2 separate regions of the Homo sapiens genome follow, and region 2 is reported to be linked to region 1. Evidence: microRNA targets listed by miRTarBase, many of them from high-throughput screens and not tested one by one. Region 1 holds a microRNA gene; the other region holds the end of a gene's coding sequence.

What was found. Region 1 holds the annotated microRNA hsa-miR-4668-5p (AGGGAAAAAAAAAAGGAUUUGUC, at 3,578-3,600, shown strand). A microRNA usually pairs through its seed, bases 2 to 8, with sites in the 3' UTR of a target mRNA and lowers its output. Matches are read on the target gene's strand: a 7mer-m8 pairs with bases 2 to 8, a 7mer-A1 pairs with bases 2 to 7 and ends in A, and an 8mer does both.
Region 2: miRTarBase lists DENND10 as a target of hsa-miR-4668-5p. Seed matches in the 3' UTR shown: 7mer-m8 at 6,071-6,077.

Annotation. Positions count from the first base shown.
Region 1 is chr9:111,928,523-111,935,642 of GRCh38, forward strand. MIR4668 (microRNA 4668) reads left to right here and starts at 3,578; the gene lies at 3,578-3,647. UGCG (UDP-glucose ceramide glucosyltransferase) reads left to right here. Exons shown (of 9, transcript NM_003358.3): 6 at 978-1,156; 7 at 2,749-2,835; 8 at 3,648-3,837; 9 at 4,305-6,847. The coding sequence ends at 4,475.
Region 2 is chr10:119,136,156-119,143,275 of GRCh38, reverse strand. DENND10 (DENN domain containing 10) reads right to left here. Exons shown (of 9, transcript NM_207009.4): 9 at 5,292-6,805. The coding sequence ends at 6,629. SFXN4 (sideroflexin 4) reads left to right here. Exons shown (of 14, transcript NM_213649.2): 14 at 1,957-2,509. The coding sequence ends at 2,034. Among named protein-coding and RNA genes, the nearest start is that of SFXN4, 26 kb to the left of the region's middle. RefSeq lists an enhancer at 328-829.

The DNA.
Region 1 (7,120 bases):
GTGACTAACATCTCATTCCTAAGACCTCAATAACTACTAAGGAATTAAGATATGTGCCTCTGTTCTTAGAAGTCAGGTTCAGTTCAGTCCCACAAACACTAGGGCTTCACTGGAGTCTGGGTTCAGGGTAGGTAGCAAGAATCATAATCATAATTGCCCCTTAGAATTCTCTTGCTCTGCACTGTGTGTGTAACTCCTAAGAAAGATGACTACTCTTTATTTCAGGCTAATTAGAAAAGGCAACATATCTGAGGTGTAAATAATAAATAGGATTTTATGTCTACTAAGTAGGGTAATAACAGTCCTTTTCTACCATTGATTTATCAGCGTATATATCTTATGACTTCAGAGTATATGCAGAGAAATGGCAGTAGCGGATGAGAGAATTTTAGTATCCCCGTTATGAAAAATACATTGAAAAAAATGGAGAAATTGGGAAGAATCTTAGTGACTAAGGGAGAGGGAGCAGCTAGCTACAAAAGGATGCAAGAAAAGGAATTAAGAAATAGGATTGTGTCCCCTCCCCACCCCCCACCCCCCAAAAAAATAGGATTGTCCCGAAGGTTGATATACCTATGGGTGGTGTGTGTATGCATGCATGTATATATACACACATATACGTAACATACAAATATGTATATTGATCCCAGTAAAGTAGATGTGTGTGTATATTTACATGAACACCCTAAAAACAAGATACATTGAATATTTGTTAATATTTTATATATCAATGAGTGATATTTTTACCTTATTTTGTATCTAAATTAAGTTTTATTTGGATGCATTTTTAGCTTACTAACTGTGCTTGCTCTATGAAAGCAATATTGTCTACCACTTTTTATTCAGGTAGTCTACGTAAGAATAATAAGATATTCACTCAATCATACTTATAAAAAAACCATTGGGAAAAACAGTTCGTGAACACCATGCTTTTAACATGAAATTCTAATCATACACGTTTGTGGTTTTTTGGGCAGGTATATTTTGGAACTTCACATCCAAGATACTATATCTCTGCCAATGTAACTGGTTTCAAATGTGTGACAGGAATGTCTTGTTTAATGAGAAAAGATGTGTTGGATCAAGCAGGAGGACTTATAGCTTTTGCTCAGTACATTGCCGAAGATTACTTTATGGCCAAAGCGATAGCTGACCGGTAAGACAACTAAATGAAGCCATAGTATTTTTATTACCTAACTTCTGTTGGTTTATTCTTTTTGTTCAACCTATAGATTAGGGCTTTTTAATTTAATTTTATTTTTTTTGCTAGTAAGTACAGAATAGGTCAATAATTTTATTATTTTGTTTGTTTTTGAGACAGAGTCTTGCTCTGTCACCTAGGCTGGAGTGCAGTGGCGCGATCTTGGCTCACTGTAGCCTCTGCCTCCCGGGTTCAGGTGATTCTCATGCCTCAGCCACCAGAGCACCTGGGACTACAGGCATGTACCACCATGCACACTAATTTTTGTATTTTTAGTAGAGATGGGGTTTCTTCATGTTGGCCAGGCTGGTCTTGAACTCCTGAACTCAAGTGATCTGCCCACCTCGGCCTCCTAAAGTGCTGGGATTACAGGTATGAGCCACCACACCCAGCAGATCAATAATTTTATAGAGTAATTCATATTCTAATTATAGAATTGTAGATATGTACTAATGAAGAAGGTAAATGTTCTGATTCCTCTACATTTTTCAAATTAATGTGTTTTAAAGCGATTAAAAGTAAGTTTCTCTGTGTTTAGAATTTTTACTATATAGATACAAATTTCTGTGTTTTAGAAGAATTAAAACTATCAGTGCAGTCATAAACTAGTAGGTGAAAATTTAAAGACTATCATTTCAAAATTTGAAATTTGTCAGTGAATTATATGATACTTTGCTAAGAAGCCACTGAAAGATTCATATGACTGACTTAGCATTTCTCTATCACAAAATACTTGTTTTGTTTTGGTTTTTTTTTTTTTTTTTGAGACAGTCTCGCCCTGACATCCAGGCTGGAGTGCAGTGGCGCAATCTCGGCTCACTGCAGTCTCCGCCTCCTGGGTTCAAACGATTCTCCTGCCTCAGCCTCCCAAGTAGCTGGGATTATAGGCACCCGCCGCCACACTCAGCTACTTTTTTTTGTATGTTAGTAGAGGCGGGGTTTCACCATGTTGGCCAGGCTAGTCTTGAACTCCTGACCTCGTGATCCGCCCGCCTCAGCCTCCCAAAGTGCTGGGATTACAGGCATGAGCCACTGCATCCAGCCTAAAATACTTGTTTTTAAAGGAGATCACTGCCTTGTGTGAGAATTCTTTTAAATTTTTTAAAAACTGAAGTGTGTTTTAAATACAAATTCTGTCATGATTGTGTTCATGTGGTTCATGGTTTCCTAGTGTCTCCCATGAGATCCATAATGCCACTTTCTGTTTACATGTCTTGTTGTTTGGTTAGTAGTCATCAGAGACTAATCTATTAAATATGGAGCCCTCTCCATTTTTTTTCAAAATGACTGCATTTTAAGTTTCTTAAATTGTAAAGTAAGGTGGGTACAGTTTCTTCTAGTTCTTAGATGGTGCTGTCACGGGCCAGCATAATTGCTAAAACATCCATACGTATGGTAGACCTTAAGTCATGTGCTAATCATGAAAGCTGGGCTCACCCTGAATACCGGCAGTTGCCTGGTCTTTATAATGATTACTGAATGCATAACCAGTTACGCTTGCATGTGTTCATCATCATAACTTATTTTCTAATTATCTTAATTTTCAGAGGTTGGAGGTTTGCAATGTCCACTCAAGTTGCAATGCAAAACTCTGGCTCATATTCAATTTCTCAGTTTCAATCCAGAATGATCAGGTAAATCAACTGTTTTCTTTTTATACTTCGTTAAAAGGAAAGTGGGGAGGGGGGTGGTAATTTTTACAGGTTTAATGTAGTTAAATGAATGTACCTAAAGGTTGAAGATTTTTGTTTAGTTGCAGAAAATAGAGTTTAACGTCTGTGTTTAAGATAAATTTAATGTCTAAATGTATTTTATTTGCTGTATAACACTGAAAGCACTCATTAGAGAAATGTTGAGACTGAATTTTTTAATATGCTGATCTTTATTTTCTAACTTTCTGTGCTGATTAAATTTTATTATCTGTATTCATCAGAGCGTAGGCCATACAAATGAATTTAAAGACATTTTTCTTTGACATCCTAGACAAAAATAGAAAAGAGAGTCATTAAAAAAAATTTTTAGGTTGTGTGTGGTGGCTCACACCTGTAATCCCAGCGCTTTGGGAGGCCAAGGCGAGAGGACTGCTTGAGCCCAGGAGTTTGAGACCAGCCTGGGCAAAATGGTGAAACCCTGTCTCTACAAAAAATGCAAAAATTAGCCAGGTGTGGTGGCGTGTACACCTGTGGTCCCAGCTACTTGGTGGGATGAGGTGGGAAGATCGCTTGAGCCTGGGAGATTGAAGCTACAGTGAGTGCCACTGCACTCCAGCCTGGGTGACAGAGCAGAACCCCGTCTCAAGTAAAAAAAAAAAAACAAAACAAAAAAAGTTTAAAGAGAATGGTCTTTCTATCACAGGGTAAAAAAATTGATTATTTGAGGGAAAAAAAAAAGGATTTGTCTTGTAGCCAGGATATTGTTTTAAAGAAAATCCTTTTTGTTTTTCCAGGTGGACCAAACTACGAATTAACATGCTTCCTGCTACAATAATTTGTGAGCCAATTTCAGAATGCTTTGTTGCCAGTTTAATTATTGGATGGGCAGCCCACCATGTGTTCAGATGGGATATTATGGTATTTTTCATGTGTCATTGCCTGGCATGGTTTATATTTGACTACATTCAACTCAGGGGTGTCCAGGTATGTGGATAGGCATGAAAAGGTTGGCAGTCCCTTGGTGGAACTAGAACTATTTCAATTTAGAAAAAGTTGAAGGAAATGTATCTGAGCCATTCTTCAGCTTCCCATTGTAGGTTAGTCTCGGGTTTGAACATGACTTTCTCTAGTGGAATGTTGATGCAAAACTTAAGTCGATTTGCAACTTTCTATTGGTTATATAATCGCTTTTATTAAGTTTCCAAAAACATGAAGTTAATTAAATCAGTGAGTATTGAAACTAATAAGACATTAAGATAGCAGTTATTTTAATGCTTCATTAACAATTAGCATTTTCTTGAACGGTATAACATGGCAGTTAAATTACATAAGGAAGCAGACTTGATTTTACATAGTATACTTAGAAAAGTGAAATCCAAGAATTTAATTTTTTAACCTTGTCTTTAGTTTGACAGTGAGTGAAATTAAAAAATTTTTTTTTCCATTCCTAGGGTGGCACACTGTGTTTTTCAAAACTTGATTATGCAGTCGCCTGGTTCATCCGCGAATCCATGACAATATACATTTTTTTGTCTGCATTATGGGACCCAACTATAAGCTGGAGAACTGGTCGCTACAGATTACGCTGTGGGGGTACAGCAGAGGAAATCCTAGATGTATAACTACAGCTTTGTGACTGTATATAAAGGAAAAAAGAGAAGTATTATAAATTATGTTTATATAAATGCTTTTAAAAATCTACCTTCTGTAGTTTTATCACATGTATGTTTTGGTATCTGTTCTTTAATTTATTTTTGCATGGCACTTGCATCTGTGAAAAAAAAAAAAAACACATCTGTAGTCTTGGCCAAATGATACACTTTATTTTGTGGAAGTAGAGAATCAAGAGAATTGGTTCTAGGAACCTGGGTTCGTTCATCATTGTTGTTTATTTTTTTAAAATAAATAAATAAATATATATATAGATGCTCTGCAACAAACTCTGTGACAGTATCCTTCAGTAGAGAAAGTTTCTTACTTGTGAGTACACTCTTTTAGAACATTTACGGGTGGCAGCAGCTTTGCTTTAGAGTTTAGAAGATAATAGAAGGAATGACTATTCATGTCCAAAGTGAATGGTTTTGTGCAGTGAACAACACATGGCGAGGTACTAACTGAGAAACTTTTTCATGCTTTATGCCTACCTCTTGTAGTTGTTGCAGAGCAAATATAAATTGTAATAAGATAGCTAGGCCTTGCAGAAACAAACAGAAAAACTTAAAAAAAAATGATATAAGAGCTGGAGTCTAGTATTTATATGAATCTGTGAGAGATAATTTTTTTGGTCTCACTGCAATGAACCAAAAGCGGCTGAGTTTGGTTTTTAATTGTAGCCATGTATTGAAGGCATCTTTTTGACCAACTCTTGTTGGTTCTGTCTTGAACCATTGTTAATCACTGTGCTGTAATTAGTATAGCTAAATCTTTTCCTTCCTTGCTCCTCCCCCAGCCCACCCCGTCTTCCCTTAACATTTTTTCAGGGGGGGTTGGGAGTGGTTTCATTTTAGTGTGAGTGGATGTTTTGATAGTTGTAAGGAAAAAATGCATTTCAGACACATTTCACACATGAGCTATTTTCTTACACAGTATGTCTTATTGTTAATAAGAATGTAATTTCATGATACAAGTATTTAATACCTTTTTTAAGTCAGTAAATATTCTAGCCATCAATAAATTGCAGTAGAGTATTAAGAGGGGACAGGATGAGTTTACTCTTAAAATTAATCAGTATCAAACTAAGTCTACTGTGTGTGTTTTTTTTTTTTGTTTTTTGTTTTTGTTTGTTTACTATTATAGTAAGTCTAGTCTTATTTAAATTGGATTTTTGTATTCAAGTTTATATGACAAAATAGACTAGATCAGCGCTGGTTGTAAATGCATGCTGTACCTCACTGTTTTCTCCCCATCATGCCGCTAAACTTGCTCGCCAGGTTGTGCTTAACTTGTGGTGAACTGGACTTGATTCTGTTTTGTTTTGTTTTTTTAAAAAAAAAAAACAAAAATGTAAGGGACAGTGCATAAGCCTTTTCTTTGTTAAGTAGTGGTGTTTTGCTTTTTCTTCAGGATTGGATGGCATGTTGTCCACAGGAATGCCTACTGCAGGGCTAACACTGGCAATATGGCAGCTTTAAATTCTGAGTTACTACAGTCTCCATGTCAAAGCATAATGTGTAGCATATCAGCAATAACTACATATTTATAGAAAACACTTTTTCACTTTACTGAGCCAATTCATTTAATTGTCAAATGTCTATATCCATGGTTTAAATGGCAACATATCTATAAGTATGTATACACATTATATTTAAGCTTTTCTCTGGGCCAAACTGCTTCATCCTTTTTTCTTTCTTTTTTTTTTTTTTTAGCCTTATGATGAATTTGTTTGAAGGGCATTTTCTTTATGAACAAAGGCTTGGATGCATATTCCTTTCTTTCTGTGAATGGGTATTATTCCCTGAGGAAAGTTGCACAGTGAAAACCAGTCTGGTTGTGACCCACTACATGTTTTGTTTTTAATCACTATTACCTGAGTTGAACTTTGCTCACCATGTTTGTACTTGTTGGTCTGTTTAATGAAGTTTGGTTGATGCCATCCTTTGCACTGCCGAAGCGTAATCTTGTGTATTACTTAGCTCTCTGCTGATCTCAGTATGGACAGTGTAACAACAAAACCAAAATGGCTGGACAGACTTCTTGTGTTTTGTAAATATAAACTAGGACAGTTCTGTAGGTTTGTTCAGTGTGCTAGTGGAGTATTTCCTTAATGTAAAACTTCACTTAACAGAGAGATTCTTTGTTTAGCAAGCTTGGAGTGATGATAAAATGGTAAGAAATAATATAAATGTTGAAGAAAGCATCACAACAGAACTATAGGAGTCTAAATTTAATAAATCTTTAAAAAAAACCAGTGTCTAGAATATATACCATGTTTTATTATTTAAAATCATTGTCTTAAATTTTTGTTCAAAAAATAAAAATTTGAATACAATCAAAACGTTAGCAATAGTGTATTTTTTGTTCTTCTGTATTTTTATAAGTAGCATGTTCCACCATTCACATCAGAATTATTAGAAGAGTTCTGTCAAGTATTCCTTTTGAAATCTTCCTTTTACCTGAGCCATAGGTAAAATAAATAAGGACATAGGCAGTCCTGTGACTTAAGTATGGCTTTTCTACATTGGTTGCCTGTTAAAATCACCTGGAGAACTTGTAAAAAAAAAAAAAAATACACAACACACACCCTGGGCCCTGTACACAACACACACAC
Region 2 (7,120 bases), not on the chromosome of region 1:
ATCCCCAGTGGAGGATGGGAAGGGCTGAATGGGCACGTGAGGCTGCAAGGAACAGGCAGGATGCTGGGGGCCAGGTGGCAGGGCCTGCACAGCCAGGCCAAGGAGCAGGGCAGCAGGTAAGTCATGCAAGGTTGGAAGGGGCAGAACTCCCAGAGGCCAGAGTGGAGGCAGGAAAGGGAGTCAGTCTCACGCGTGACCTCAGATGCCAAGACTTGCTTGCTGGACTTTGGAAATATCCTGTTGGGGCCGGGCGTGGTGGCTCATGCCTGTAATCCCAGCACTTTGGGAGGCCGAGGCGGGCGGATCACGAGGTCAGGAGATTGAGACCATCCTGGCTAACACAGTGAAACCCCGTCTCTACTAAAAATACAAAAAAATTAGCCAGGCATGGTGGCAGGCGCCTGTAATCCCAGCTACTCGAGAGGCTGAGGCAGGAGAATGGTGTGAACCCTGGAGGCAGAGCTTGCGGTGAGCCGAGATCGCGCCACTGCACTCCAGTCTGGGCGACAGAGCAAGACTCCATATCAAAAAAAAAAAAAAAAAAAAAAATTCAAAACATTAGCTGGACGTGGTGGCGGGTGCCTGTAGTCCCAGCTACTCGGGAGGTTGAGGCAGGAGAATGGCGTGAACCCCAGAGGCGGAGCTTGCAGTGAGCCGAGGTCGCGCCACTGCACTCCAGCCTGGGTGACAGAGTGAGACTCCATCTCATTTAAAAAAAAAAAAAAAAAAGACACAAAATATCCTGTTGGCTCAAGGAGGGCATGGAGGTGCTTAGATGAGATAAGGAGTTATTACTAATTTTGTTAGGTGTGACAATGACATAGTAGTTTTGTAACTACTGTCATTACTATATCAAGTACTATATCAATAATGATAAGGTCTTTATCATTTGGAACTTGTAGGTGACATGACATGAGAATTGCCTTAAAATACTCAAGGAAAAAAATCCTACTGCTGGGTGTGGGAGGTGCTTGATGAAATGAGATCTGCAAATTGTTAATAGTGATTCCTGAGTGAGCACATGTGAGTTCATTACATTCCTTCTACATTTGTTTTTTGTTTGTTTGTGTGTTTGAGACAGGGTTTCTCACTCTGTTGCCCAGGCTGGAGGGCAGTGGTATGATCATGGCTTACTGCAGCCTTGACTCCCAGGCTCAAGTGATCCTCTGACCTCAGCCCCCCAAGTAGCTGGGACTACAGGAACGTACTACCACACCTGGCTAATTTTTTATTTTTTGTAGAGATAGGGTCCCACTATATTGCCCAGGCTGATTGCAAACTCCCCACCTCAAGCAATCCTCCTGATCTCGGCTCACTGTAACCTCCACCTCCCAGGTTCAAGTGATTCTCGTGCCTCAGCCACTGGAGTAGCTGGGATTACAGGTGTGTGCCACCACACCCAGCTAATTTTTGTATTTTTTGTACCATGTTAGCCGGGCTAGTCTTGAACTCCTGGCCTCAAGTGATCTACCTGCCTCAGCCTCCCTAAGTGTTGGGATTACAGGCATGAGCCATTGTGCCCAGCCATCTTAAAACTTTTTAATGGAAACTTTCAATTATAAACAAATGTAGAGATAAGTAAATAACAATAATGGGCCAAGGATGGTGGTGCGCGCCTGTAATCCCAATCCCAGCTACTCGGGTGGCTGAGGCATGAGAATGACTTGAACTTGGAGGGTGGAGGTTGCAGTGACCTGAGATGGTGCCACTGCACTCCAGCCTGCGCAACAGAGCAAGACTCTGTCTCAAAAAAAAAAAAAAAAAAAAAGTTTAAGAAGTTTCTTTACTGCTTGGGTGATTAAAAAAAAAAATAGGTTACATTTTCTGCTATAGATTAGACATTATTGAAAAAGATGGACTGTGAAATGGTTGCTTTCAGAAAATGATTTTTTTAACTTGGCTTCTAAGGCAAGAAAAACTATTAATAGAAACATTATGAATTTAACTATTTTTCAGATACAGTACTGTAGTCTTGAAGAGAAAATTCAGTCTCCAACAGAAGAAACAGAAATCTTTTATCACAGAGGGGTGTAGGCGTGAGTTTTAGGTGAATTTATGTGGTTCCTGCTTGAAAACCTTCCCCTCTCCAGGTTCGGTTTAGAGAACTTTGCCACAGGTCTTCTGGGGACCCCAGAGGTGTCTGTGCTGACAAGGCGACTTCAGATTCCATACTGAGATCGTTCCCAGGCTGGCGTCTCTGGGGTTTTTAAGGCTGGCTGGAGAAGACAGTGGGAGGGTGCCCCGTCTGACACCCCTGGGGTTGCTGAGGGAACGGTTGGAGTGGGGATCGGCCTGCGAAAGGATACTGTGAAATCACTAATTAACTAATAAACCTGTCTCAAGTTGAGGATTTGAAGAAAGAACACAGAGTCCACCGTGCCCAGGACACAGGTGTTAAATGGATAGGCCGTCTCAAGCGGAACACGTACCCCTGGGGCGCTGTTTACGCCCTCCAACCCCAAAAGCAATCTTGTTTCCTTACTCAGTGTCCTCCATTCTAGACAGCTACTTAAAACCTTTGCCGCCCTCCGCCCAGTGCCTCCTTTCTCCTCTCTGGCAAAGGACCCTGCCTCCTCCGCCAGGAAACAGGTCAGCAGTGGAGCCCCCCACACCCGCACCCACACCCATCCTTCCTCCGTGTAATGCCAGCGTCCTCCAGGCTCTGGGCCTCTCTCTGCTTCCTCAGGGCTGTGCTCTGTAGCCTCTGTCTGCCAGGTCCTTCCCAGAAGTATGTAAACTACTTGTCGGCCAGGCGCGGTGGCTCACGCCTGTAATCCCAGCACTTTGGGAGGCTGAGGCCAGTGGATCGCCTGAGGTCAGTGGATCGCCTGAGGTCAGTGGATCACCTGAGGTCAGGAGTTCGAGACCAGCCTGGCCAACATGGTAAAACCCCGTGTCTACTAAAAATATAAAAATCAGCCAGGCGTGGTGTTGCGCACCTGTAGTCCAAGCCACTCAGGAGGCTGAGGCAGGAGAATCACTTGAACCCTGGTGGCGGAGGTTGCAGTGAGCTGACGTCATGCCATTGCACTCCAGCCTAGGCAATAGAACGACTGTGTCTCAAAAAGAAATAAACTGCTTGTCACCTGCCTCATTAGAGACAGGATCTTGCTGTCACCCAGGTTGGAGTGCACTGGCACAATCAGCTCACTGCAGCCTTGAACTCCTGGGCTCAATGAGGACCCACCTGCCTCAGCCTCCTGAGTGGCTGGGACTACAGGCGCCTGTCACCACGCCTGGCTGTAGCCAGACACTTTAAAAGAGTTGTCCGCCCTCACTGTCTCCACCCCACCTCCCGTTCTGCTAAGATTTCTCTCATCCGTGACCCACCTGAATGTGGCACTGCCACACTGCTGGGCACTCAGGCTGGTCACTGAGCTGCTTACTTGGCTGTACTTTGCCATTTGGATGTCCCAGACACCTCAAACTCAACCCATCCGAACCTGAGATCAGCTCTCCCTCCCAGTCTCAGGAATTGACACCACCACCTCCCCAGGTGCACCAGACAGGATCACTGGAGGCGCCCTCTCCCCACCTTACCAGCCTATGCAGTAGACAGGGCCCAGTACATGGAGTCTGGAACCCACATATGCCCACTGCTACCACCCAGCGCAGTCCAACAGCATCCCCTGCTGGCACTGCCTGGCCCATCTCCTGCCTACTCCCTCCGGTCCACGTTCCAGCCTGCTCTTCTAAACCACACCTGCTGAACAACTGTTTTTTTTTCTTTTGAGACGGAGTCTCACTCTGTCACCCAGGCTGGAGTGTAGAGTGCAGTGGCGCGATCTTGGCTCACTGCAACCTCCACCTCCTGGGTTCAAGTGATTCTTGTGCCTCAGCCTCCTGAGTAGCTGGGACTACAGGCATGTACCAGCCACCACGTCCAGCTAATTTTTGTTTTGCTTTTTTTAAGTAGAGATGGGGTTTCACCATGTTGGCCAGGCTGTCATCTCCTGTCCCCGCGATCCACCCACCTTGGCCTCTTTAAGTGCTGGGATTACAGGCCTGAGCACCGCACCGGGCCTGAAAAGCCTTAAATGGCTTCCCAGTGCGTCAAGATCAAGCCCACCTTCCTCACCACAGCAAGCCTTTCCCATACTCGTATCCTGCCACTCCCTCCCCTCCCTGTAGACCCTCCAGGTCCTCACATGGGCTGTGGTCTCTTCTCAGGGCCTTCACACAGCTGTTTCCTCTGGTCTGAGTAGATGTCTACTTAATGCTTCAGGCCTGACTTTGACATTGATCACTCCCTCTGGGAGGCCTTCCAGGATTGACAGCACTGAACTGGGTCCCCATCTATGTGCTCCAATACCACTCTGTTTCACACATCACGCCTAGCACTAGCCACACTACAGCAGCCTGTTTGCTGACCCTATTCCCCAAGCGGACTGTGCGCAGCACCGCGAGAGCGGGAGCTGCTGCCCATCAGGGTAGTTCAAAATACAACACAGGCATGGCACAGAGTAGGTACCTCAACATTTGAGTACTGGACTAATGCTTCCAACACACCCTACCCCACATTACCAAAGAATTTATCTGTGGTTTTGTTTCCCCAAGGCCAGTATGATGGTTCATTTCCAAATTTGGTGAGGAAAGTTTCATAACAGCCTAAAAGGACAAAATCAGTAAATGGCTCAGTTTGACCATAGGCTGACACTAACCAAAATTAAAGTTAGAGAACAAGATGGGCAACAGCTGCAGGTGGAGGTTTAACCGCTAACAGATGACAGAAATGTGAAGGCATCTTCCAAGGACAGGAGACTGAAGTTACAGAGGCAGCTCCAGGAAGGCGAGTGGAGGAGGGCTAGGGCGGGAGGAAAGGGTGTGTGGGGGACGGCTTGAACTTTTTTTTTTTTTTTTTTTTGAAACCAAGTCTCGCTCTTTTGTCCAGGCTGGAGTGCAATGGTGCAGTCTCGGCTCACTGCAACCTCCGCCTCCCTGGTTCGAGCAATTCTCCTGCCTCAGCCTCCCAAATAGCAAGTAGCTGGGATTACGGGCATGTGCCACCACACCCAGCTAATTTTTGTACTTTTAGTAGAGATGGGGTTTTACCACGTTGGCCAGGCTAGTCTCAAACTCCTGATCTCAGGTGATCCGCCCACCTCGGCCTCCCAAAGTGCTGGCATTACAGGCATGAGCCACCGCGCCCTTGGCCGTCTTGAACTTTCAGACAGGTCTTTTAATAATTCCCTAGCGCCCTCACAGTTGAAAAAAGGTATTTTTTCCCCATTTTCTTTGGAATGAGCAGTATTAGAGAAAGAGGGGACAATTCGTCACCCACCTAAAAGTAGTTGAATATCAAAATATATCAATTTTATTTCTGCATCATAAATTTATAATTTTAACAACTTTGATCATTAGCTAATATAGTAATACAAAAAAATGAGAAAAAAGATGTTAATATTCCTCATTTCCATAAAGTGCAGATTTAATTTTCAATTATTTGCCTTAGTAAACATTGTCTTATTTCAGGTACTCCCTGCCCTCACTCAAAAAAAAGGGAGGGTGTTTAATTTTTATTGAACAAATATGTAATACCAAGAAAAAGATGAAAGACCCAATAATGTTTTTTGCAAACATGTTTCCAGGTAAGATTTCCAAGGACATCAGTACTGAGTGAAAAATAATCCTTTACAGTCAATATGAATGAATACACTAACAAGTACATCATTTAGATCTCCATGCTTATTTGGCAATTCCAGTTATGAAAAAGGTACATAAATAGTACAAACAATTGGCTTGACATGTGGCCAAACTACTTTCATCGAAGTTGCTGGAAGCCTTTCTCTGGTTTTGGCCCCTGTAGGAAGTTAATCTCATATTCCCTTAGCAATAATATAAGGTCACTGTTTCAGTCCTACACACTTTTATATTCAATGGGCTTCTTAGTTTATCACATAAGGACTGGCACTTTTTTCAAAAGAATATTGCTAACAGGGTTAAATGAGTGCTAATGGCTGAACGTTTGCCAAATGCTTACTTCTGCGATAGTATAAATATGGATTATTAAAGTTGTCTACTCAAGTATAAAATATATGCAAAACTCTCATAGGCAAAATGTTCAAAGGCCGGGAAAAACCTTTTTTTTTTTTTTTTTTTTTTAACTTTTACGAGAAAGTGCAACTGCAGGGTCTCTTGAATGATCTTCTAGACAGTTCCGCAGAAAATTAGCAGTTTGGCTCAGAAAGTAGAGTTCCTCAGGAGGAATTAAAGTTCTTCCTAGAAGAATACAAAGCAACGTTTCAGGCAGCTTTCTGAAAATAAACCATTAGCTTATGCCTACACAGCGAGACAAACTGGAACGTGTAATAATGAAGGCTTTCACATTTGTTGTGATGTGCTTTTTTTCTCTTACCCCAGGACCTCTAGCTGTTCTGTAATGTTACATAAAGTAGTTATAGCACTTCGTCCAGCACTGACAGCAGGCAGGAAGCTAATCAGCGAGGAGAAAATCGGAAGTGTGTTCATGTGTTTCATTGTTTTTCAGGTCAAATCTCAATACTTGCAAATAAATCATTAAAAAGATATAACAGTTTCTCTGTTATTTTCAGGACTTCATGTAGTGAGTGGGTAATCAGAGTGAAAGAGGGCTTTCTATCAGTCATCAGTGATACGTTCTGTCACACAGTCAGATTTTCAGCATTTGTTCGGCTGCTGCTAGATGATAAAGGAAGTTTTCTGTTGCTGGTGGAAATCGTTTTTGCTTTAGCGCCTCCAAATTAAGGACTCTCTTTTCTCCATCAGCCGAAACTTCTGAAAACGGTGCTAGGTTGGTAAAGATTTCTCTTGTTTTTAGAGCAATATCCTTTAATAGAACAGGAAAATATATGCAACATGTTAGTATCCGAAATTTGAATATTTAGTCTCTAGAATTCTTCCTATTTTTTCCAGACTGTTTATAAACTATGAAAAATGAGCTTGGCGTGGTGGCTCATGCCTGTAATCCCAGCACTTTGGGAGACCGTGGCAGGAGAATGTCTTGAGTCAGGAGTTAGAGAATGCAGTGAGCCATGATTGCACCACTGCACTCCAGCCTGGGCAACCCTGTCTCAAAAACGAACAACAAAAAAGATAACTCCTTTTTTTGTTGTTGTTTTCGAGACAGGGTCTCGCTCTGTTA